2 separate regions of the Homo sapiens genome follow, and region 2 is linked to region 1. The links come from fine-mapping of genetic effects on gene expression. Tissue or cell type: whole blood. Region 1 holds a variant in brackets; the other region holds the start of a gene. All regions are shown on one strand. Distances are between the middles of the regions. Region 1 overlaps NSUN2 (NOP2/Sun RNA methyltransferase 2). Region 2 holds the start of NSUN2 (NOP2/Sun RNA methyltransferase 2).

Region 1 (12,187 bases):
CCCACTGGCCAATGCCGGGACAATCTGAGAACCAAAATAAATGACAGTAATAATAAATAAATAACTGAATAAAACAGAATCCTTGAATCCGTACTGACAGAAAATGAATCAAGAAGCAAACAAAGGACAGAGGAGTGCTTATTCTATGTAATGAGAACTAATAATGTAGAAGTGATGAAAAATGGGGGAAAACAATTTGTAGCTGTCACAGTAAAAACTGGCTCAGGCAAATTATCAAGAAATACTAAAGCTGGCAGTTAAAAGTTTGATGAGAGAGAGGAATATAGTCTTGAAATGTCTCCTTGCACAATACTTACAAATTTTTCAGTGGAGAAACTTGGCAGACAGATACCATGTTACTAATAATAAAACAAACTTCACCACCACTATAAAGAGAAAACCCAACATCGTCAGCCTCCTGGCATGACGCAGCGAGAACACAGCACCACCTCTGTGGTCCTCCTGTCAAAAACGCACACATCACAGGGACACTTCAGACCAACCAAAACTGAAGCACATTCAGACTACCTGACCGGTACCCTGCAAGACTGTCTCAATCATAAAAGACAGACTGGGAACTGTTTCTGACGGTAGTGAACTCGAGACAAGACAGCCAAAGGCAACTGGTGTCACCCCAGACAAAATTGGACATTGTGACTGCAAAGGACATTACTGGGCCGCTGGAGCGAGCTTGCTGGTTTGAGGGTGACCTGCATCCACGTTTCTGACGCCTATGCTGCGAGCTGTAAAGAGGGCCTCTGTTTCCAGGAAACACCACAGGAGCAAGGGGGTAACGGAACACGTCTGTAACTTACTGTCAAAGGGTTCAGAAAACAATGAGTGACATGCAAGCACACCAGAGGATGCAAATGCAAATGTAGAGAAATGTTCAGTGGAGAATGTGGGCGAAAGAGAAATAGGAGCTCTTCACGCCACAGAGCTTGAAAGTATTCCACAGTGGAGACTCCAGAGACAAATCCACCAAAGGCAGTGTGTGGTCGGTGTTTGTACAGACCAACACACAAAATGAGGTAGACAGGAAGACAGCAGCCTTCACAGTAAAACCGCTTTCACTAGAGAAAATAAGGATGTATTCTAACACTGCCATTTAGCCAAAAGTAAGTTTGTTCTTTCTGCTTCCTAAGAGCAAAAACAGGAATCACACATGTATATATTTTATCAATTTTATTGAAATATTCCAAGGATCCCAACCCCATTTAAAAATAAAAATTGTAAAGCACTCCATTCAATAAAAGCACATAAGTCCCCCTCAATAATTAGTATGACAATTCACGATACAGCTCTTACTCTGGGAGAGTTTATTTTACCCTTTATTCCAAAAGGCACAAAGTCATCTGAGGCCTCAGATATTAACCCCACTGCATGTTAATGACACACCACTGAGGTGCAGCTCAATGTAATTATTAAAGCTTATAACACACTTCCCCAAGAATTTATAGATTCTTTCTATAAATAATAATTTAAAAAATACTGCACCTTAAGACCAATACAGGCTTAACAAAAGACCTGAAATTTCTGCAAGGGCAGTTTTGTTTCTTGATAGAAGTACAACTTTTGAAAGTCTATTCCCAGCAAAAGAAACACTAGACCCAGCTTGGCCAAAGAAACAAAATAAAACAAGTGATTTCTAACACGCTAAAAGAGTACATTTTCATCAGCTCCAAAGAAAGCAGTCCTGGTCATTCAGAAGGCTCCTATGATCCCACCAGTCTGCAGTCATTAGAAATATATGCTTTACAGGCCACAGGCTGCTCTGGATTTGGTTTCAGACACCAGTGACCAGAAGAAGCCAGTTTTGCGTGTGAGGGGTGTGGGCCCCCGCTGCCTTGGGCCTGCTCACCGGGGTGGATGGACCCCCGCCGGGTCACAGCCTGCTGTCACGTCTGGACTGTTGGCCTCTTCTGCATCTGGGCTGTTGGGCTCTCCTGCTCTCTGTCCCTCAGTCACGTCATTGTCTGGCTGTCCGGTGCTGGCTGCACTCTCATTTGTGAGGATAACCCCTTCCTTCTTCTTTTCTCCCAATACCTCCAGCCCCATCATCCTGAGATAATGAAGCCGTTCATTCTTGGGCACAAAAGTTCGAATGGAGGCCTTTCCCCGCCATCCGCATAAGACGATGGGACACTGCAGAGCGTCTGGATTCCTACAAGTGAAAGTGGCTTCATGTAGAACATTAAACATTCCCATAACTAAATCGAATGAGATGTAATATGCAACTGCTTAAAAAAGAAAACCACAGAAAACCCATACCCACAAAACCCCCAAAACTACTGGGAGGACATTTCATCTGGATCCGAGGGGTAGGTTTTCTCAAAGGACTTCCTTCTTCATGTCCTGAGTAAAATTCTCACCCTCGCTTTCGCCCTGCCTCTTTAAGTTCACAATGGAGTAGAGGCCCCAAATCTACAGATTTCACATACACTTTCTACATACTTCCTTCTCAAACTTAACTTACTGTCCCCGCCACCCCGTGTCACCTCACCCCACTAAATGAGAAGCGTTTCTCCACAGGCTCCCTGCAGCTCACCTCAAGTTTCCTAAGTGGACTGAAGCTCCTGAGAGGCTGGGAGACTCTGCCCTTAGCAGGGCGTCAGAGCAGGACCCAGGACCACCGGGAGACTCTGCCCTTAGCAGGGCTGCCAGAGCAGAACCCAGGACCACTCATCCTTTTGATACTCAGTGTTAGCGTGATTTCTTCTCCAGGGACCCCACATGGCAGTCTGAGCCCTGCTGGGCACACAGTGCTCATTTCCGTTCCCAGCATGCAGTGTTACCCACAGTCAAAAACATCCCTGCCTCTCTGAACATGCTCCGAGCCTCCCTACCTTCCAGGCTCCACCTGTCCAGCCAGGAGGCATCGACGCCCCAGCAGAGATGGACGCCACCATTTCCAACCTGCACACGCCCTCTCTCAACTTATCTGATTTCTTTCATACGGGACTCTGACCTAGATTTTAGGCTCCTAACGGCCGTGTTTAATCACCTTTCCATTTTTCCTAATGTAAAGCAGGGGCACAAAGGTGGTTTTAAGAAGTGAGAGGAAAATATAAGAAATTCCCAACTCCCATCTTCTTAAAAAAAAAAAACCATTATTCCTGAAGTTGACCTGTCACCTGTGTATTTCACCAAGTAGAAACAAGTGTTTAAATATGGAAAAGTGAATCCACACCTTAAAATATCCCAATATTTTCTATGTGGGCCACATGGGACTGTTATTTTAAAAACCATTTCTGAGTCTTTGTTCAAACTCTCGTTAAAAACACCCAGAAGCCATCAATCACTAGATGCTCCTGCCCGTTCACCATCCAGACACCATCCGCCTCCAGCAGGTCCCCAGGGTGCTCATGCGCTCGGCCTCGCTGACCTCTCCAGCCCATCCATCTGTTGTTCCCTCACCAAGTTCCTGCCCCTCCCACCTCAGCCCCCACCTGTCCTCTCTCCACATGGCAGCCGGACAGCCTGAACCCTGAGGACATGTGGCCCCTCGGCCTCCCTGCCAACCTCTTACCTATCCCTCCTCCTTCCCTACTTGGCTGGGCCCGCCCCGACCCCCAGCTTGCACCTGCCTCAGGATCTGCGCTTTGGTGGTTCCTTCAAGTTAGCACTGGATCCCTGGTCCAACACTAACTTCCCAAAGAAATCTGTACAGTGGTTCTACCTATTCACTCCCCCAAATCCCAGTCAGCCGTGGACCCCATTCTGTTTCCTCCTCTCAGAAATGGTGTTGCATGTCACCAAGACGGAGCTGTTGCAGGTGAGATCCGAATTCTGCCACTCGTGAGCTGAGGAGCTCTGGGCAAGCCACCTAACTTTCTGTCCCGGCTTCCTCCTCTGGCAAGTGCTGCCAAAACCAGCACCTGCTCCCCCAAGGCCCCCCACAAGGATGCAGCGTGAATACATGCAAGCAGCGTGGAGCAGTGGTCCCGTGGGGACCGTGAGTGCAAGCGTGAGCAAATCCCATGCTCCGGCCCTAGCACTCCTGATGCAGTAACATGTCAGCAACACACATGGCTGAACCAGCCATGAGGACAAAAGAACGGAACCTCACTCAACTGTCCAATCTTCACACTTACTCTGTACAAGACAGAAATTTTCATTGGTTTCTAATGCTTAAAAAATAAGTACTATGCATTTTATTCTCTGTAAGTAAAAATTCACTTAGCCTGAGCTGAGTGTTCTATGAAACAGCATCTTCATGATGACCTACAGGAATATTTTGGTTCTGAAGTTTTCACAAGGCTACTTCTGAGGAACAATCACAAAAGGCCTGAAGAAGGTTCCCACCTTCCCAAGTCACTTTCCTCACCAACGAGAACACTGTAGCTAATGACAAGGCGTGTGTGTCTAAGGGCAGGGCGTGTACTGACTTACGCAGAATCTGGTTCATACTTCAGCACGATGCTTCCCTTTGCTGGAAAAGAAACAGACACACATTTGCCAGGTTTTCCAGGTAGTGGATGCATGCGCTGAGCACATTTCTGCACCTAGTGATGTGTTAAGTATTCTGAAGAAAGAAAACAACAAATAATCTACATTCTTGGCTTCAAGGATCTAGATGGTGAAAAGAGGCCGTCTGGATACATGAACCAAGTCCAAATGACGCAGTAGGGACGATCTGGAAGAGGACCCAGGCAAAAGCCATTCAGGGACTTCAAGGGATGTCACCTGACAATCCACTCTGAGAAGCAAGGAGGCTGGGGATTAACTGCTGGTTAATTCTTCAAAATTCAAAATTAAATAAACTATAACACCAACTCCCAGAATGGCATGAAATACATAAAAATTGTCTAAAACAATACTGCAATCATCTAAGTGCAGGATTAAAAGAAAACCAGTATAAACAGGTCCTTTATCCTTTACAAGAATCTCTACTTTAAATTGTGGTTCTTGCCTGGAGACGGCAGTGGGAGACAGACTCCACAGAGCATGTTTTATATCCCAAAGGAACCACACGAGTAAGTTTTAAACGCAAGTAAGAAACGTAACTGCAAGAAGTGATTCACGTACTTTTGATCAAATTGAGCCAAAAATATTAAACAGCAAGTTATTTAAAAAAATAAACAAGAATGAAGACAACAGAAAGAAAATTAGAACAGCTTGGAGAAATGATTTTTATGCTTAGGGGAAAACGTCACTGGAGTGATCTGAAGTGGAAGTTGATGAAATATAAAAGCAGCAATATGACCAATAATCTACTCCAGCTGGCTAGCAGAAAAGTCAGAACTGCTGGCAAGACTCTTATTTTGCTCTAACACAGGTGATTAAAATCTGCATGTTAGCCAGTCTCGTGAGGCTGTGTACCTTAAAAAACAAATTTACTGGCTGGGCGCGGTGGCCCACGCCTGTAATCCCAGCACTTTGGGAGGCTGAGACAGGCAGATCACAAGGTCAGGAGATTGAGACCATCCTGGCTAACACGGTGAAACCCCGTCTCTACTAAAAATACAAAAAATTAGCTGGGCGTGGTGGCGGGTGCTTGTAGTCCCAGCTACTTGGGAGGCTGGGGCAGGAGAATGGCTGAACCTGGGAGGCGGAGCTTGCAGTGAGCCGAGATCGTGCCACTGTACTCCAGCCTGGGTGACAGAGCGAGACTCTGTCTCAAAACAAAAAAAGAAAAAAACAAATTTGCTCATGCACAGAGACCTGCTTCCACCCACCCCCGACCTGCTGACAGGCAAGTGGGTCAAGAGCTCTGGCTGGGAGGCTTGCCAGGGCTGCTCACAGGCTGACCCCTCCTCTCCCCGGACTCTCTGGCCCAGCAAGGTGAGCAAAGGCCAGCCCTGCACGCCACACAGACACACCACAGGCTGCTGGGCAGCAGCAGGGCACCACCAGAGCCTGGGGAAGTACACCAACCCCAAGATGCCTTTGACCCTTAGCATTCTGAACTGTCAATCAGGGATCTACAGAACCCTCTGGAAATTGATGTAGCCATAAATAAACTGAAAACTATGATTGATAAATATGCCCCAACGCACACCACCTGCATTTTTGCTGGCCTTATAAAGGGAATACAAGTTATGTCTCTATGCATTTCCAACTACTCACCCAGGTCCTTTGCTTGACTGTAGGTCTCACTGCTGAGTTTTCTAAAAAAGGGATTTTCCTGGGTCAACAGTATCTTAACATCTTCCATTGATACAGTAATAATTCTTGAGTTAATAAATGGATACAATGTATATATTCCCTGTGTGAATAAAGAGAATGAGAGAACAGATACCATGATGTCATTCATGAACGACAACAGCCTGCTCTCAGGGGCTATGCTCTTAGCGGCTATGGTGGTCGAGCCCTCACTATGGCCCCTCCCCTTGGACAGGTGTGGAACCCACCCCCCCCTAGGAGGGGAAACCAGCACTCTGGGAGAGCTCTATAACCTGTGAGGGTCAAGTGGCTGGTAGGTGCCAGCCAAGCCCTGAGCCACTCAGACCATCTGGCTGACCAGCAAGCCCATCTACTCCCGACTGCTTCAGTCATCTGTGGCTACTGCTGTTCAAATCCACTTCCAAAATTACCTCCTGTGCCAGCCGGAAAGCACAGTCAAACTCTTCACCGCTGTTATTTCTACACCAGACTTTGATCCCCGTGTTAATAACCTGTAAGTAAAAAAATAAGATGAAACACAGAGAGATGAAGACAGGACCATCTCCTGTAAGGATGCCGGGCCACATGGAGCAACCGTCACGGAATGGGAAAGGAGAGGAGAAGCAGAAACCCACCGAGAAACCCCGGTTAAGAACGAACTGATACTCACAACTTGTGATTACGTCGTTTGGAGGACAGTAAAGCAAATGAAAGAAGGGCCCCCAAATGGCCAAATTCTAAGGGAAGTACCTCAAAGGACAAATCCCAAGGGTCGGGGCAGCAGTACTCGCAGCCTCTACACCTTTAGTACCTTCTCTGCCCAGGAGGGCGAGCTGTGAGAACTACACCATGGCTCACCCCCCTGCGGGAATGGGGCACAGAAAAGACACAGGCCACCAGATTCAGGACTCTGGCAGGAACCATTCAGCCCTGTGTCAGTCAACAGCTCTGAAATCAAAGGGCAGGCTCAGGGACCCACAGCCAGCGCTACAGGTGGGGAGGGCAGATGTCACGGTCTGCTCCAAATGAAATCTAAGCCGCTGTGAAAAGCCACACGCATCCCGCATCACACAGCACTCAGCGTCTGTGCGGCTGGCACCTTCATCTTCTCACTGTTATTCAGCAGCACATTCCGCAACTCCTTAGAAACCATGTAGAGCTGCCTTTTCTTCCCTTCTGTAGTCCGAGTTAACAAATTCATCCTTGGGAATGAAGGATCCAAAGCATAAAATTTCCTGTACATAACAACATTG[T/C]TGTTTATCCACAATGAGTTCAAAATCTGGTAGACTGTTTCTAAACATCTTATTCTCCTCCTCCAGAATTCAATCCCCAAAACTGCAGTGTGGTTCAAGGGCACTGGGCTCTGCTCTGGACTCCAGCTTCTAAACTTCATCCACTTCCACCTGAAACCTCCACGTAACATTTATTTGGGGCACAACTCCATCAGAAACCTAAATTAACAAGTGCAGCTTCTCTCCCTCAGCCGCTACTCCAATGATAATGACCTGATAACACTACTTTTGAGACTTTTTTTTTTTTTTTGATATGGAGTCTTGCTCTGTCTTCCAAGCTGGAGTGCAGTGGCGCAGTCTCAGCTCACTGCAACCTCTGCCTCCCGGGTTGAAGCGGTTCTCCTGCCTCAGCCTGAGTAGCTGTGATTATAGGTGCACGCCACCACACCTAATTTTTTTTTGTATTTTTAGTAAAGACGGGGTTTCACCACATTGGTCAGACTGGTCTCAAACTCCTAACCTCATGATCTGCCTGCCTCAGCCTCCCCAAGTGCTGGGATGTGCCCGGCTGAGACTTATTTTTTAATAGACTTTTACAAATGTATGCAAAGGACCAGTTATTAAAAAAGACAGTAAGTGACCGCCCTGGTAAATAGATTCTAAAATTCAATGAATAAGAAACAGATGAATGTCAGACTTGTCCTAAACCCTTTTCCTCTATATTCTGTCTATGTCATCCCTAATTAGCCCTCACCCATGCTGCTCTTCATTTCTTCTACAGAAACTGAACTAGACAACCTTGGCTACTCGTCTATATACTCAATTGAGTAATTTAGGTTCAGGATCACAACTAATTTAGATTCATAATCACAGTCCAGTTTTCTTTTGTTTTTTTTGAGACGGAGTCTCGCTCTGTCGCCCAGGCTGGAGTGCAGCGGCGCGATCTCGGCTCACTGCAAGCTCCACCTCCCAGGTTCACGCCATTCTCCTGCCTCAGCCTCCAGAGTAGCTGGGACTACAGGTGCCCGCCACCACGCCCGGCTAATTTTTTTTGTATTTTTAGTAGAGACGGGGTTTCACCGTGTCAGCCAGGATGGTCTCAATCTCCTGACCTCGTGCTCCGCCCGTCTCGGCCTCCCAAAGTGCTGGGATTACAGCCGTGAGCCACCGCGCCCGGTCCAGTTTTTTTTTATCTATCATGTTCACAAAGTAAAAGTTTACTTTCTCCTTAAATTAAAAGATTGAGTAACCTCTAAAGTTTCATCCTGCTCTAATATGCAGTTAAAAAGGTTAAAAAAAAAAAAAAAGCTAGACAGAACTACATACAAAACAATGGTTACATGTGATCAGTTGTACATTTGATACTCTATAGTAAATTTCTTTAAATGAATAATTAAAAAGGCTGAATCCTTACTCAATAGGTGGAAATAATGGGTCATCTTCAGGAATAAATACAAATGGATCTTCTTTAAATCCAAATAACTTCATTTTCTTTGATGGAGGAGGACTAAAAAGGGAATCAGGATGAGACAAATCAATCTGTAATGTGTGGTAACCTTCAATACCAAAAGCACATTCTTCCTTTCTGTCAGTTCTGTGCAACATGGAACGGTTTGCGGCAGATGTTGAAACCTTCCGGCTTCCACAGAGTCCAGCCCTCACACTGCATGTGCCTGATACCACACATGTACTGCCCCCTCAAACCGACCAAGAAGTGGCTCTGGGATCCCATTTAATCCAAAAGGACTGTGAAGACACCAGCGTATTAGATCAAGACATAACCACTTTTCTTACCCACACACGCCATCTTTCTTACTGCCATTATTCTCTAAATCCTCAGTTGCATGAGCTATTTCTGTGTCACCAGTTCCTGTGAATGACGGACTTTCCAGCTTAGAGGGATCTGTGGGTTTCCCTTCTGTGAGATCTGCAGGGCTCAGCTGTGTGCTTTCTCTGGTCTCTGCAGATTTACCCTGAAGCTGTCATAAAGAACAATTTCATTGACACACAAAGAGGAGCATTCTTTGTGCTGCTACGAAAAGTTAAAAATACCACGTTCACAAAATCCATCAGTTATATTTTTCTACAGCATTATATGTAGAGAAAGACAACAGAATTTTTTTAAAGTGTCATTTTAAATCTACTTGCTATTATAAACAAAATTCATGGACAGTTTCTTTGGAGTTAAAGCTGATTCTACCTTAATCCCACAAAGAGCATATACAGCCTGTTCCTTAGCAGAGGCCTACACCACCAGCTTGTTCTCGTGTAAAAATGCTTATCGTGCATCTGCTCTGGGTAAGGCACACTGAAGGACACAAAGTGCACCAAGCACGATTTCTAAAATACCCGGCAGGGGCAAAAAGACAAGTATATAAATAACGAGAAAGGAGGGTATGAATTGTTCTTGGGCACCTGGACAAACTGCCACAGGAACTGGGAGAAAGAGAGAGTGCCCCAGGCACCAAGGAAACACCTGCCAAAGAATGAACTTCTGAATTAGGGCCATGGTATAATTTAAATTTGGCTTTGGGAATGAGCAAAATGTTTTACTTAAAGATCTTTAAAAAATACATGTCCTTTTTAACATTTTAACAGGTCACAAAATTGATAAAAGTCGTAATTCCTCAGTCCCTATGAAGTAAGTTTAAAAATTAGGATATTTCAACACAGGCAAGTTCATTTTACTCAGAGCCACAAAGCTACTGAGCAGAGAAGCCGGGAGCATCCCAGGGAACACCTTTTATTTCCATGTTAATATAATGTAAAAAAGCAAAAACCAAAACAGATGAACCCCAAGCCTGTGAGCAAGTCAGTGAGGGCACACGCCCTTCCTGTCCAACCTCAGCTTCCCCCAGAGGGGCCTTCTTGTTGAGTCCAGCTCCAAGGGCATGTTCTCCCATCTCTGTTCTACCTCAACAACCTCATTCTGGGACCTTCAAATACCAAGGTCAGTGTGAGCTTCCCTGGCCTAACTTCTAGCCAAGTGCTTACAGGCCTCAGCACCACAACAGAACACGGCATCCTGACCATGGAGACTCTACCTGCGTTCCCAGTAGGACCAACAGCAGCACAGGCCATGCTAGCACTAGATCTGTTGAACTAAGTGAATAAGAAACTGACATAGTAACAGAAAGAGAGAAGTATTCATATTATTTAAACGAGAAAATGACAATAAGTTGTTCTAAAAAGTAAGACTATACATAAGGGGCTAATTGAAAAAATGTCAAAACCTTTCTATGTAAGTATTAACACGTCAGAAACATCAATGTAAGCCCTAATGCAGGCCAACCTAAAGCACGCGTCTCTAAGACAGGCTCCTCTGTGACTGCACTGTGCTCTGCAGCTGGGCAGCCACAAGCCTGTGGTCACTGACCACTTAAAATGTGACAAGCGCAAAGTCTAAAACACAAGCTACTGAAACCTAGTATGAATGAATGCAAAGTATCTAATACTTTACAATATAATTTCTTATACTGATTCCATGAAAATAACATTCCATCAGCGTTAAGATACCTTGTGAGACTTTTAGCCTCAAAGTGAAATACTTTCTAACCTGACAGAAAAACCCTGGTGGCGGCAGAAGTGCAGTCGCCCCCTTTGCCCGTCTGAGGCTGTACGTTCCAACGTTAAACTGCACAAACCGTGCCCCAGAAAAAGGCTGGAGCTCTTTGCGGAACTGTTTCCTTTTTGTTCCTCCAAAGCTAAGCGTTTTTTGTCCTAATTTTCAAGCATGGATCTTAAAGAAATACAGACTTCCAGACTTTGATTCCAGGCCAGGTTCTTTCATCATGGAAGGCTGATTTATGAACTAATAAATAATGCTGGCGTGATACAGGTGAGACAGCACGCATTACAAAGGACTGCGTGTTAGGATGAGGGCAACACTCCTTCACCACTGTTTCCTGGCCTGCCTTGGAAAGGAACCAGCAGGCAGTTTAGATCCATAGCAAACAGGCCGGGCTGCATCTTTCTAGCCAGGTCTGGACAAGGCCGTCATCATTCCTTGCAGCCAAGGTGAACCCGGGCTGGCTTGGGGTCAGCAGAGCTCTGCTATCTGTAATTGGTGAAATGAACCACTCACAAGGAACTAGAGCACAGAAACCTGGGGCTTCCAATTGAGAGCCACAGAGCAATCTTTCATGTCTTTTCAATTTTTATTAAATAACTGGATTTACAGTGTGGCAGGAATACATTCCCCCAAACACTGACTTCTCCACTTACCTATCACCTATGAGAAATTTCTGCTTTTTGGAAAACTTGATATTTAAATGAAATTCCCCCTCATTCAGGGTCAGCTCTCCTGCTGCCCACAGCAAGAAGCTCCTCTTTCCTCTGTACTTCTACTAAACTCCGGTTAGTTTTTGTCTTAAATGTACAAGATCAAATGTTATGTCATTTTGGAAAAAGAAAAACTCACCTTTGGCTGACGTTTATTCCACGGCATTGAAGATTTTTTCACCAATACTGCCACAAAAAACCCTCCAGTATTCTGATGATGGGGTAATATCCTAAGGCTAAATATATATATATAATTCACACCTCTGAACTAATCAAAAATGCATTCTTTTACTATTAAGACAAATACCGCAAAGATGATACAAGAGAAAAATCATGTCTTCGACCCTCACTCATAGAATGGCCAATATGTAAACTTAAATTTTTTTTTTTTTTTTGAGTCAAGGTCTGGATCTGTTGCCTAGGCTGGAGTGCAGTGGTGTGATCTCAACCCACTGTAGCCTCCGCCTCCTGGGCTCAGGAGATCCTCCTGCCTCAGCCTCCCAAGGAGCTGGGACTACAGGCATGCAACACACTGCCTGGCCAGTTTTTGTATTTTTCTTTTTTTTTTT
Region 2 (12,609 bases), 26 kb after region 1:
GGTTGCTATACCATTCAAATATTAGAAATTCAGGTATAATACCAACTTCCATGAAAGAAAAGGGACTTGAAGCTTACAGAGCCCCAACTCCCCATAGCAGTAGAGCACAGAAGCTAGAGGGGCAGCTCTCAAAGACAGAAATGCTATTAAATATTTAAACAAATACCTTCAACAGACAGCATCAACTTAGGACAGAAAGTGACTGTCAAATGGTTTTTCCTTCTTGCCTAAAATTCTATTTCTTAGTCCTCCACTATTTTCAGACATAGCCCATGCCCACTTTCTATTTCTCATAACTACCTTTCAAAGAGATGAAGACATCAACCACTGCTTCCATCTTTCCATCTTTAGACCTTCAATATCTAAAATTCCTCACCACACTCCCTGCCCTCTGTCTTCTCTAGTCGGCCAGGACATCTGTTACAAGGCAGAACTATTCAGGTGCAGACAAAATCCTCCTGCCCTGCCCAGCACTAGCCTCAACCACACCTCTACTTTAATCGCCTTGAAGCTGAGGCTTCTGCTCCAACACAACCCTACAAAAGCTGGGACTTCTGGAAATGAACAGCCACCCAGGCATCCATCACTCACCTTAAACTCAGGCATGTGACTGTCAAGAGCCTTAAATACAGGCTTTTACACTGATGGCTGCTAATTTTCACCTCATGGGTTTCTGGCCAGCATGAGTCTGTGGTGATTCACTCACTAGGCACACTGATTCCAAGCTTTTGAGTTATACGTGTGATCCTGATATGCCTGCCTTCTGTATCCATCCAAGGTTTTGATTAAAGCATTAAGTAAGATGGGGACATCCCGGCAGACAGTAACCAGATTCATGACCACCCTGTGTAGATGTTTTGTGGCCAGCTTTCCATAACCCAGAGGTTATTGCCATTCATCTCAAGAGCTCTCATCACGCTGACTCCTAATCAAAAACCTATACTAGTTCCCTACAACATTTGCTACCCACCCTAAACTCCCATCTCCTCCATCTTCCAAACATGCCAAAACCTGGCTCTTCCAACCTATCCATGTGTATCACACCCCACAAACCCCACGCTCTCTTCCAAGTGCAAACCTGAGCTGTTCTCTAGCAGCTTACTGATCTCTATTTGGCCTTCCATCTAGATTGAAAGTTGAGCAAGAGAATCCTTTCGTGCACTGGTCTCAAGTACGAAATGGGGTTATGTGGCAGCACTTAGTTCCTGGTTCTTGTTACTATTCAGGAAGGAAAAGCCAGGCAGACACAAGCCCAGTTTAGTCGGTTACTTAGATGACAGAAGGCCAAAGTGAAAAAGAACCATAATCTGGTGACACACAGATTTACTAGAAGGTAGTAGTTTAGAAAATAGGAAGGACGAAACCTCTGATTTTAAATGTGAGACTAAGAATTCCAAAAAAAATACCCAAACTTTATGGGCATTCATTGAATTATTTAGTACATAAGCAAATAGCTGTTTTGCTGGGGATGCTCTGATGCTAAAGGTAAAAAGCTCAGCACCTTAACTGCACTCAAGGAATGTGGGTGGCTACGGAGAATGTGAAGACAGATGCCGTCCTGTGAGGACCAAAGCTGTGCTTAGGGGTTTTGTGGTGCTTAGGTGTTTTGTGGTTACCAAGAGCAATGTGTGGTAAGAAAAAAAAAAAACACAGTAAAAAGTAAAATCAAAAGCTTCATTTTTAGTAAAATAAATCAATTTTAAAAAACAGAACCAAAAACCTATTCCCTACCAAGATGGCCTTAAAAACATACTACTTTTTATGTACAACAGGCATCTGAAATGTGTACCTAAGAAGGAAATGAGAGTGCAGTGCTCACCCCAACCCTATAGCCATCCAAATACACAAGCAAGAGGAAACAAGAAATTAACTAGCTGGCATCGATATCCTTACTAAATTTCATGACTAGATAAACCAAACAAGGCAACGGATATACAAATAATCAGAAATCACAGGTGGTGCACACACTGCAGTTGTCTTTACTGTGTGTGATGTCCACCTACTGCTTCTAGTGACAAGAACCTAAAAACAGAACTACACTACATCTATGCATTTACAGCTTTAAGGAAACTAGCAAGTCTAAAGAAATCAACTTACAGATTCTGTTTCACTAACTAGAAACTGATGAAACTTTTCCAAGTGTGGCGATTTTCTCAAGATTTTTCGACTTAAATTTGTGTGCCAGGCAAGTTCTTCAGGATACCTGACCAAAAAGAAAGCAAAACATTTATGGATTATAAATACTAAAGTCGTCTGTTGACAACTTTGTGCTTCTATCAGTCGCATGCCAAATGAGACTTCGAATGTTGTTCTCCCTGCTCCTATTCACAATCCTCTACGGACAGTCAGCAACACTCAGAGATGTCGCTGTAGGCTTAAGGAACATGGCTCTAGCTACACCGTGGCCCAATCAGAAACAGGAGAGCCATGGGGGTTACAAGATTATGCATATTACTGTAAAATTATAATGATGAAACGCTCGAGATCAGATGAAAAAGCGGACACTCCTCTGCTCTTCACCATTATAAGGTAACAATGGTAAGGTCATCAGAAAAAAAAGATACAAGATGACTTACTTAATGTGCAGATCACACAGAATCAAAATAATGCAGTGTCAGAGTGTCCCACAAATACCTGATTAGTTTTTTAAAAAATATATTTTTCATTATTTCTAACACCAGTTCAATAATGCACTAAAATATTTTACATACCAAAAAAATCCTACCTTGGAAACCACTAATGCATTAACTTGAGCTCCTAGGCTGTTACCTATATATAACTAAGAATAAAGCATTTCCTGCCATCATATCTGTGAATATATTTGAACTTTCTATAAATGATGACATCAATGTTATTTTTATTTTTTTTATTTTTTTTAATTAGGGGAGAAATGGGGGATACTAAAAACACTGCCTTTTTTTTTTTGAGACAGTCTCACTGTCACCTAGGCTGGAGTGTAGTGGTGTAATCTCAGCTCACTGTGACTTCTGCCTCCTGGATTCAAGTAATTCTCATGCCTCAGTCAGCCACCTGAGTAGCTGGGATTACAGACGTGTATTTTCAGTAGAGATGTGGTTTTGCCGTGTTGGCCAGCTTGGTCTCGAACTCCTGGCCTCGAGTGATCCGGCCGCATCAGTCTCCCAAAGTGTTGGGATTACAGGCATGAGCCACTGTACCCCACCCAGGATGTGCTTTGAAACTTGGCCTGCACCTATACAGGCATCTGCACCGTACAAATGAGCACACTGATGTCATGCAGCACCATGCTCAATCCAATGCCAAACCAAGTGTACCACGTCACACGGCCATAAATCTTAGTGTAGTTTCAGCAATTCTCACTAAACCTGAGATGCAGTAATACACTCAATTTAACAATGCAGGCTCACAATGTTTCCATGCGTCAAATTGTAGCTAGAGTGAAAACCATGAAAATAAAACTGGAATGTCTGGAAAACACAAACACATTTGACTGCTTTTAAACTCTGATTTTTTGATGGAAACAAACTCAGGACTTAAAAGCCCGACACTGCTCAAGTCAAAATATTACAAAATATACCTGAAAAGCATTTTCTACCAAATAATGAAGACGAAACTGGCTGAATCTGTCCACGGCCACCCTCCAAAGGTCCCCAGCGCTTTGATTCTATCTCATATAGCCCAGTTCCCTCCTCGACATTTAATGTGTTCAAAAATATAAAGCCAAAAGAAAATCATATTCATAAGGCAATTTTAAAAAGAATTGTTTTAAATAATCTTTTGGACTCATTAGAGGCGAAATAGTAGGTTACATGCAAATTTGGCATTTGCTATAGTATTGGGCAAATATCTGCTGTGCCACTGTAACCTCTACTTGCAAACAGCCAAATGCCAGCTCATATAGTATCTGGTCTTCCTGAACTTGTCTGTCTCAAAGCTAGTACGATCATGTAAGTTATTGCCTTACCAAATCACTAAGACATCAATATGAACACCACATGCCATTTAGACTTATTGTAAAGAGCTGAATTTTCATTTTCAAATATAGATAAGCAGTCTAGATATACTTTGAACAAATATAGCCTTATATGTCTTTTTCGTCAAATTTCTGATAGTCAAAATGTAAACGTACTATTACAAGATTAAAATTCTACAGTATTTATAATTGTGAAGGCTGTTGATCTCATGTAAAGAAACATTTAGGAACTCTGAAATATTTAAATACAAACAGAAACTAACAGATAAATGTTTATTTCCTCTGGGTACAGAGAACAGCCTGGGCAACAAAGCGAGGCCCTGTTTCTACAAGAAATGTTTTTAAATTATGTTTCTTATACAGCTTTAGGAACAGCATCATCTTTTTATGAACCAAAAAATGTTTATTAAATCTTTGTAGATTTTAACATCAAACAAAATGAGAGGTATATTTAATTTTTAGTTACTTACTTCAAATTTAGCTTGTGTCTTTTAAGAAAAAATCCTATTTGGGCTTTTTAGAGGATAAGTTAAAAGGACCACTGTCATCTTTGCATATTAAAAATTCTCAAGTGGTAAGGACTCTGTAAATATATACAACATCTATGACAAACCATCCTCAATCTAGACATTAAAAAGCACGTAACAGGCGAGGTGCAGTGGCTCATGCCTGTAACACCAGCACTTTGGGAGACCAAGGTGGGCGGATCACTTGAGGTCAGGAGTTCAAGACTAGCCTGTCCAACATGGCAAAACCCCAACTGTACAAAAAATAGAAAAAATAGCTGGGTATGGTGATGGGGGCATGTAATCCCAGCTACCTGGGACGCTGAGGTGGGAGGATCACCTGAGCCCAGGAGGTGGAGGTTGCAGTGAGCTGAGATCATGCCACTGCACTCCAACCTGGGCAACAGAGACCTTGTCTCAAAAAAAAATATAAGTAAACAGCACATAAATAGAATGATAATAAGGTGCACTCTGAACAATTGGTTGTCAAAACAATGCTTCTATAAGAATGCTTTAGGATAATTTCTCATTGTTCTGAGTCTATGGAAAGTAAGAAAAAAATGAAACTGGCCCAAGCTATGGTCCTATACATAACTTTCCTTCTAGAAAATGTAATTTCAAAAAACGTTTTCCTAAATTATATTTCACTATGTACCAGAGGATTGGGAAGAATATTACATGATCTATTCCTGCATCTTGAGCAATACAGAAAATTACCAGAAGTCCTGGAAAGCTTCTGCTTTACTTGCTTGCTGAGAGATTTAGTACCCTAAAACTGACAGATGAATTTGAATAAATAAATGTTTAGAGAATACAGCTGCCAAGAAACTGGCATTGGCCAGGAATGGTGGCTCATGTCTGTAATCCCAGCACTTTGGGAAACCAAGGCAGGAAGATTGCTTGAGCCCTGGAATGCAAGACCAGCCTGGGCAACAAGGTGAAACTCCATCTCTACAAAAAAATAAAAAAAATTAGCCAGGCGTGGTGGCATGCACCTGTAGTCCGAGCTACTCAGGAGGCTGAGGTGGGAGGATCACTTGAGCCTAGGAGGTCAAGGCTGCAGTGAACCGTCATGACATCACTGCACTCCAGCCTGGGTGACAGAGTGAGACCCTGTCTCAAAATAAAATATAGAGAAACCATCATTGATAATGGAAAAAGCCAAATATTAGAAACCCAGATCTACAATGTTTTGTTCATACCCTTCAGCTGTGTGTTCAGAAAATTAAAGCAAACAAAAACATAGCTGGCTGTTGGCAGAGAGCAATTCACCTTCATTCTTCAACTACAGACAACCTGCAGATTCTAAGAGTTTGGTAATTACCTTGTCATATACCCAGACACATTGTTAAACAAGGTGGAAAAGCAGCTATGAAATGTTAAAAGGGCTGATCAAATCCAAGTGTAACTGTAGTTTGCAGAGAATAATAAAAAACTAGCAAGCCTTATTGACATCGTATGGTTTCTCCTAGTTTGTTGGAGCCTGCAGAAGAAAATGCCCACATGGAGGTGCCTTAAGAGCACACCTCTTCCCTATAGACACATGCTGAAACGTTCCTCCTGGACAGGAACTTCTTCATCTTAAAAGCATTTCTTATCCCGTCTCTGCGCTTCTAAACACAAGGTTTTAGAAACAAATGTTTCCAGGTGATTGTGTGAAGCAGCACATACATGCATCACTGCTAAAAATACAAACATGCCCGAGGAGAATCGTAATCCTGTCTTCTTAAAATATTTTAGATGGTTTGGCTCTGTGTTCCCACCCCAATTTCACCTTGAATTGTAATATTCCCCACGTGTCAAGGGCAGGACGAGGTGGAGATAATTAAATCCCCGGGCCGTTTCCCTCATGTTGTTCTCACAACAGTGAGTTCGTTCTCAGGGGGAGATCTGATGGTTTATTAGGGGCTTCTTCCTTTGCTCAGCACTCATTCTCTCTCCTGCCACCCTGTGCAGAGAGATCTTCCGCCATGATTTTAAGCTTCCTGAGGCCTCCCCGGCGATGTGGAAATGTGAGTCAATTAAGCCTATTTCCTTTATCTATACATTACTCAGGTATGTCCTTATAACAGTGTGAAAATGGACTACTACAGTATCAGACCTCTACTTCAAGTACAACACAATCAGTGTCGTCAATCAAATCTTCAAACCAAACGACTTGAGCAAAGTCTACAACCTAGTTACCAGGAGGAAGAAAAGCTTGATCTCGTGAAGGTTACCTCATCTCAGCAATGCCATAACTAGAGGCTGAAAAACATCTACCTTTTCCACTGATCTCACTACAGTGGACAATTAGTGACCACTAACAGCAACGTAGCACCCGTATCATTTTCCTATACTGTACCCTTCAAGCTTTTAAAAATCTAAGATGTGGCATATCTATTCTTTTTTCCCTTTTTGAGACATGGTCTCGCTCTGTGGCCCAGGCTGGAGTGCAGTGGCATGATCTTGGCTTACTGCAACCTCCACCTCCTGGGTTCAAGCGATTCTCATGCCTCAGCCTCCCTAGTGTCTGGGATTACAGGCGTGTGCCACCATGCCTGTCTAATTTTTGTATTTTTAGTAGAGATAGGGTTTCACGATGTTGGTCATATTTATTCCTATATCCCAGCAACACATTCCATGATGGTGATATTCGGTCTTGATACTGGTTGAATACTGACTTAATGTTTGGCCAGTCAGCATTCATTGTGAATGTATATGCTTATCTGTGATAGGGACAATGAAAATCCAAATAGCCAATGAAAGAAAAACAAGCAAATCTGTACCCCATGATTAATGAAAATCTGACCTTGATTTGCGAACACTAAAGGTTATCCAAAAAGGAAAGATAACACTACGTACTGGAATAGTCAAAACCTCAAAAGTTGATGCAAAACGCTTAATTTGGCAGGGCGCAGTGGCTCACGCCTGTAATCCCAGCACTTTGGGAGGCCGAGGTGGGCGGATCATGAGGTCAGGAGATGAGACCATCCTGGCTAGCAAGGTAAAAACCCGTCTCCACTAAAAATACAAAAAAATTGGCCGGGCGTGGTGGCGGGCACCTGTAGTCCCAGCTACTCGGGAGGCTGAGACAAGAGAATGGCGTGAACCAGGGAGGTGGAGCTTGCAGTGAGCCAAGATGGTGCCACTGCTCTCCAGCCTGGGCGACAGAGTGAGACTCCGTCTCCAAACAAACAAACAGACAAACAAAAAACGGCTTAATTCACCTTTTCGTGCATTACTTTTCTGAGAACTCAATACCTCAAAGTTAATAATAACGACTTTCCCACTTATGTAAGTTAACTGAAGGACTGGCGCCTCCGGAGTTCTCCAAGCATCTTTACAAGATGCTATCAGCACAAGGGATCACCTTCATACAACTGAGACTAGAACCGAGCCATGAGGAATAGGTAACCCAGAAGGCACCTCCAGGACAGGTCAAGAAAGAGGTAGCTCCCAGAGTAGTAGCACGCTTGGGTGCTGAGACTCGGAAATGCTACATTGGCTGGTGCAGTCTGTACTGCGAAGTACCAGGAGACAACCTGACAGCAGACAGTGGTAACCTGTCTGTAATGGAAAACACTAAGAGACTACCTACCAGGAGACTGTTGTCAAGCTAAGTCTGTCCTTTTTCTGAAGGCAAAGCAGCCACTCTGCAACAGTTTTGATGTGAGAAAACAAGGGCTGTAAAAGGGAGCTGGCGGAAGTGGTGACATAAAGGAAGAGGCTGGATGTACTAGGAAGAGCTGGCTGAAATCAGTGACTCATAAAGCTGCAAATCGCAAATCGCATGAAAACTTGCGTAGCAATATAATGTTGATAAAAGCACCAGGTACTAGAACATTAGGATGTTTGCAAAGTATACCCAAGCTCTTTAACAGCAAATGCAGTACCAAGAAATATAATTCAAGTGATAGAGATTAATATCCCAAATAAATATTCGGCATGAAGCACTGTGGTACCTACCAACTCAGTGGCTGTGGAACTTCAACTTTCTGACCGTCCACCTCCAGGTCCTCCAATTCCTTAAAATATTTGTTCTTTAAGCAATGGAGAATCTCTTTTGCGTGGCTATTGAAAAATAAGGAAGTTTCAAACTGATCTAAAAAACTAAGTTAATACATTGTATCTTCTTAAATTTAAGACTGCAAGTGTTTTAAAACTAAAACCAACTTTTGCATGGAGAGTAAACATTCTTTAGTCACTACTTTTACACTGTATGCCTTCAAAATTTAAGCAATCCACACTGTTTGAGCCCTAAGAGCAACACTGCATTCCTTCTCTCCTAAGCATATCCTACCGTTAAGTTTTACTTGCGACTCATTTAGAAAGATGTAACTACAAAGATGGAGGGGGGGCGCGGAGGAGGGGAGAACCAAGGGGTTTTATGCATTCTCTATAAATTCTCTTACGTTCCAAAAGGTAAGACCCTCAGCTTCCCTCCTGGAAGATTCCCCAGGAGCCGAATCTTCCTCAGATCTCATTTTCATTTCGTCTTCTAACCTTGCGCCTGCAATACCTCCGTGACCATTTCATTGGACCCTGTGCTCCCCACCTCAATGCTTCCTGAATCCAAACCGCTGAAACGCCACGGTTCTCTGGCACTGTAACACTTGTCGAAGAAAACACCGTCGCCTTTAACCTCCAGCATCCTGGCCCCAACTCCCAAAAAATCAGGCACTGCCTCCCTACCTTTTGTAACCAGTAATTCTTAAAGTGGCCGGGAGCGGCTCCCTGAGAGCGTCCATGAACTGGCCCCACTCGCCCTCGGGCACGATCTTGAGCTCCTGGTAGTAGTGCTCGAACAGCTTGTTCTCCTTGACGATCTCGGGGTAGCCTCCTTCCCAGCCCTGAGGAAGGAAAGAGACGTCTACCCCGAGGCCCAAGGAGCCGCCCCCTCGCCGCCGCCTCGCAGGCCTCGGGGTCCGGGAAGCCCAGGAGGAGCCCCTGGCCCGCCCGCCGGGTCCCGGCTCCTACCGCCTCGCCGCGCTTTCCACCACCCTCGGCGCCATCCTCCGCGTCCTCCGGCCGCTGCTGTTGCTGGAGCCGCCGACCCCGCGACCGCCGCCCCATAGCCCACGCGGCCGCGCACGCAGCACGCAGAAACCGGCCCGCCACGGCCAGAACTCTAGCCCTACACCTCCCGGGACTTCCGGCCGGAAACCAAGGCCCCACGTGTCCGGGCCTGGTCCTTTCGGGGACCTTTGGGGACCGTCCAGGAATAAGCCCAAAGCGCACAACCCGTCTTTCAGAAAAGCGGCGTGACAGGGAAAACAGCGAACAGCTCTAAGGGGAAAAAAATGCTCCAGGAAGCAGCCACAAAGGCGTCTCCGCGCGAAGCGCCCAGGTTTCCCACGCGGGCTCAAGGAGCTCCGCGGACAGCCTGAAGCCGCGCGTGCGCAGAGCGGCGCGGGGTTACTGCGGCCCCGGCGTGGGTGGGGCGCTTGCAGGTCCCTCCCCGCGCAAGTGCTCGCCCCGCCCCCGGGGCCGCACCCACAGCCCCGGCTACCCCGGAGAAGCCTGACTTGAGAACCCTTTCTGCAGAGTCCCGGCAGTGCGGGACTCCGGTAGCCGCCCCTCCGGTAGCCGCCCCTCCTGCCCCCGCGCCGCCGCCCTATATGTTGCCCGCCGCGGCCTCTGGGGCATGGAGCACGCTGCCCAGCCCTGGCGATGGCAACGGCGACGGGGGTGGCGGAGGAGCGCCTGCTGGCCGCGCTCGCCTACCTGCAGTGCGCCGTGGGCTGCGCGGTCTTCGCGCGCAATCGTCAGACGAACTCAGTGTACGGCCGCCACGCGCTGCCCAGCCACAGGCTCCGAGTGCCGGCGCGGGCCGCCTGGGTGGTGCAGGAGCTGCCCTCGCTGGCCCTGCCGCTCTACCAGTACGCCAGCGAGTCCGCCCCGCGTCTCCGCAGCGCGCCCAACTGCATCCTCCTGGCCATGTTCCTCGTCCACTACGGGCATCGGTAACGTCCCCGGCCCCCGGCCCCCTACCCTACTCCCGGCCCGGCGTCCTCTCCGACCCTCCCCTCACTGCCCGGTGCCCTCTCCCCGAAGCCTCCCCCACCCAGATGCCCTCTCCCTGCCAGATCCCCCGGGGCGTCCCCCATCTGCACGGGTGCCCTTCCCCGAGTCCCCCGGCCCCGGGAGTTTGGAAACCAGAAGGGATTCGTCTGGAAAGGGCGGGAAACAAAGGACTGGAAGGGAGTGATGGAAAAAAACATGATGAAACTGATCTGGAAAGAGCCACTCAGTGGTCCTAGGTTTGGTTTCCTTAGCCGGGCGCGGTGGCGCCTGTCTGTGATCCCAGTTACTCGGGAGTCTGAGATGGAAGAATCGCTTGAACCCGAGAGGCGGAGGTTACAGTGAGCCGAGATCTCGCCACTGCCCTCCAGCCTGGGTGACAGAGCGAGACTCTGTCTCAAAATTAAATATATAAAAATAAAGAGTTAAAAAGTAAAAATGTAAAATAAAAATGAAGACTAGATTTTGTTCCCTTAGATCACGACTGTGGGGGCGGGGGGGAGGGGGTTGGCCTAGAGTCTAATGCTGATGGTCGGTCTTGAGGGCCACTGGTTTCTACTCCTTTCTGCCGGTTCCCCTTTTGGTATCTTTGGTGATGGTGGAGCTGTTTTCTCCCAGCCAAGTGATCAGCTGCAACTGGAAACCTGCTGTCCTAAAACTGCCTAGCAGTTTCTCCTTATAGGCTTGATCACTTTCAGAGACTTTCATGTCCACCTTATGCAAGGGACCCCAGGATTGTGGGGGTGGAAAGCCAGCAACCTTAAACCTTAAACAAACGAAGTCTTAAAGATGACTTCTAAATCTTTCAAGGTTTTTGTTTTTTTGAATATTTGAAAACTGGCTGTGTCTGAAATCTTCAAGCCTTCTAATAAGTTGGGGTTCTCTCCAGGTCGTATCTTTTGGCTTTTACACAGCCAAAGCAAACGACAGGTCGAAAGTTCAAAATTAAATTTTAAACGTTTTCATTCAGGCTCTGGAAAGCTTCACAGTTAAAAAGGATGTCTCTACACCCAAGGAAGTTGAACTCACTGGCTGTGTGACTATGGGCAGTTTACCCAACCTTTCTGATTTGGGGTCCCACCTTAAAACACTCACTTCCCAGAGAGACAGGAAGAACTCAGTGTGTGTTTATAAGCCTCTCTTCTTTCTCCTGGTGTCATGCATTCCAGCGAAGAGAAAGTACACAGCTCCACTACTTGGAACCAGTGTTGTACCCAGCACAGTTTTTGGTACCTGAGTTCCCTGAAAACCAGCACCTTACCCTGTAACTGGTGCAGTCTGTGTCCTCAGTGTGCTTTGATGACTTGCACTTTAAACAAGGGCAAGTCAACATTCATCAGAGGCTTAGTGAGTACTGTGTGCCTGAAACTCTTTACCATTGCTTTATTTTTTTTTTGGAATGGGATCAACCATTGCTACAATTTGAATATTAGTCAGACTTTGCTGTTTGTATATACTTTTCCATAAATATACCAGAAGCTGTATGTCTGTTTCTTTATGGCTAAAAGCAATCTCAGGTCAGAGTATTCGGTGCTATCCTAGTCCCATCAGTCATGACCCTGGATGAGTTACTAAGCTGCCCCGCAGCAAGGTTTCCCCACCTGTAGAATGGGCATGGTGATGGAACCCCCCTGTGGGATCACATGAATTTAGAGCAAAGGCAACTCCCTAAAATGCTTGCATGGTGCTGGCGCATCTGCGTGCTCAGTACACAATACCTAGCACTATTTTGCATTGCTGTGAATGCACATCCAGACATGTACTCTGTGTGTCATTCATGTGCACTGCTGCCAGCCTCATGTGCCAGCAAAACTGTGGTGTTGGAAATCAAGGGAACACTTGACAAAGTTTTGCCTGACATCCCAAGTGGAAGCTTTTTAACTTGAGACATCATGTTTCATTGTACCTACATTCACTCAAGCAGAAAAATGAATGCAGCCTCCCAAAGGGCCAGAGTCACCTTGAATGATAGAACTTGAACAGCTCATTCATACAGAGTAGAACACGGAGGCACAGCATGCTGCTGTCTTCCCTGAGGCTGTTGGATAAGGAGCTGCTGGGATGAAAGCCCACTTCCTATACTAATAGTTTAAAAGCTGCTCCAAGAGGATTGGCTGGGTCAGGTATAGTTTTTTTTTTAAATTGCTA

What was found.
Region 2: NSUN2 starts here. The variant in region 1 is fine-mapped to the expression of NSUN2 in whole blood (TOPMed, PIP above 0.99). The same link has a PIP of 0.9 or more in aorta, blood mononuclear cells, breast, cerebellar hemisphere, cerebellum and esophagus mucosa.

What each region holds. Positions count from the first base shown.
Region 1 is chr5:6,598,069-6,610,255 of GRCh38, forward strand. NSUN2 (NOP2/Sun RNA methyltransferase 2) reads right to left here. Exons shown (of 19, transcript NM_017755.6): 12 at 11,758-11,854; 13 at 9,132-9,316; 14 at 8,752-8,844; 15 at 7,205-7,340; 16 at 6,537-6,617; 17 at 6,070-6,208; 18 at 4,393-4,432; 19 at 1,171-2,164. The coding sequence ends at 1,858. Among named protein-coding and RNA genes, the nearest start is that of LINC01018, 22 kb to the left of the region's middle. The variant T/C (reference allele first, on the strand shown) is at 7,359.
Region 2 is chr5:6,623,467-6,636,075 of GRCh38, forward strand. It overlaps NSUN2 (NOP2/Sun RNA methyltransferase 2), which reads right to left and starts at 9,578. Exons shown (of 19, transcript NM_017755.6): 1 at 9,418-9,578; 2 at 9,133-9,290; 3 at 8,407-8,511; 4 at 2,098-2,203. The coding sequence starts at 9,513. It overlaps SRD5A1 (steroid 5 alpha-reductase 1), which reads left to right and starts at 9,974. Exons shown (of 5, transcript NM_001047.4): 1 at 9,974-10,403. The coding sequence starts at 10,111. RefSeq lists enhancers at 9,674-10,185, 10,186-10,697 and a silencer at 9,821-10,210.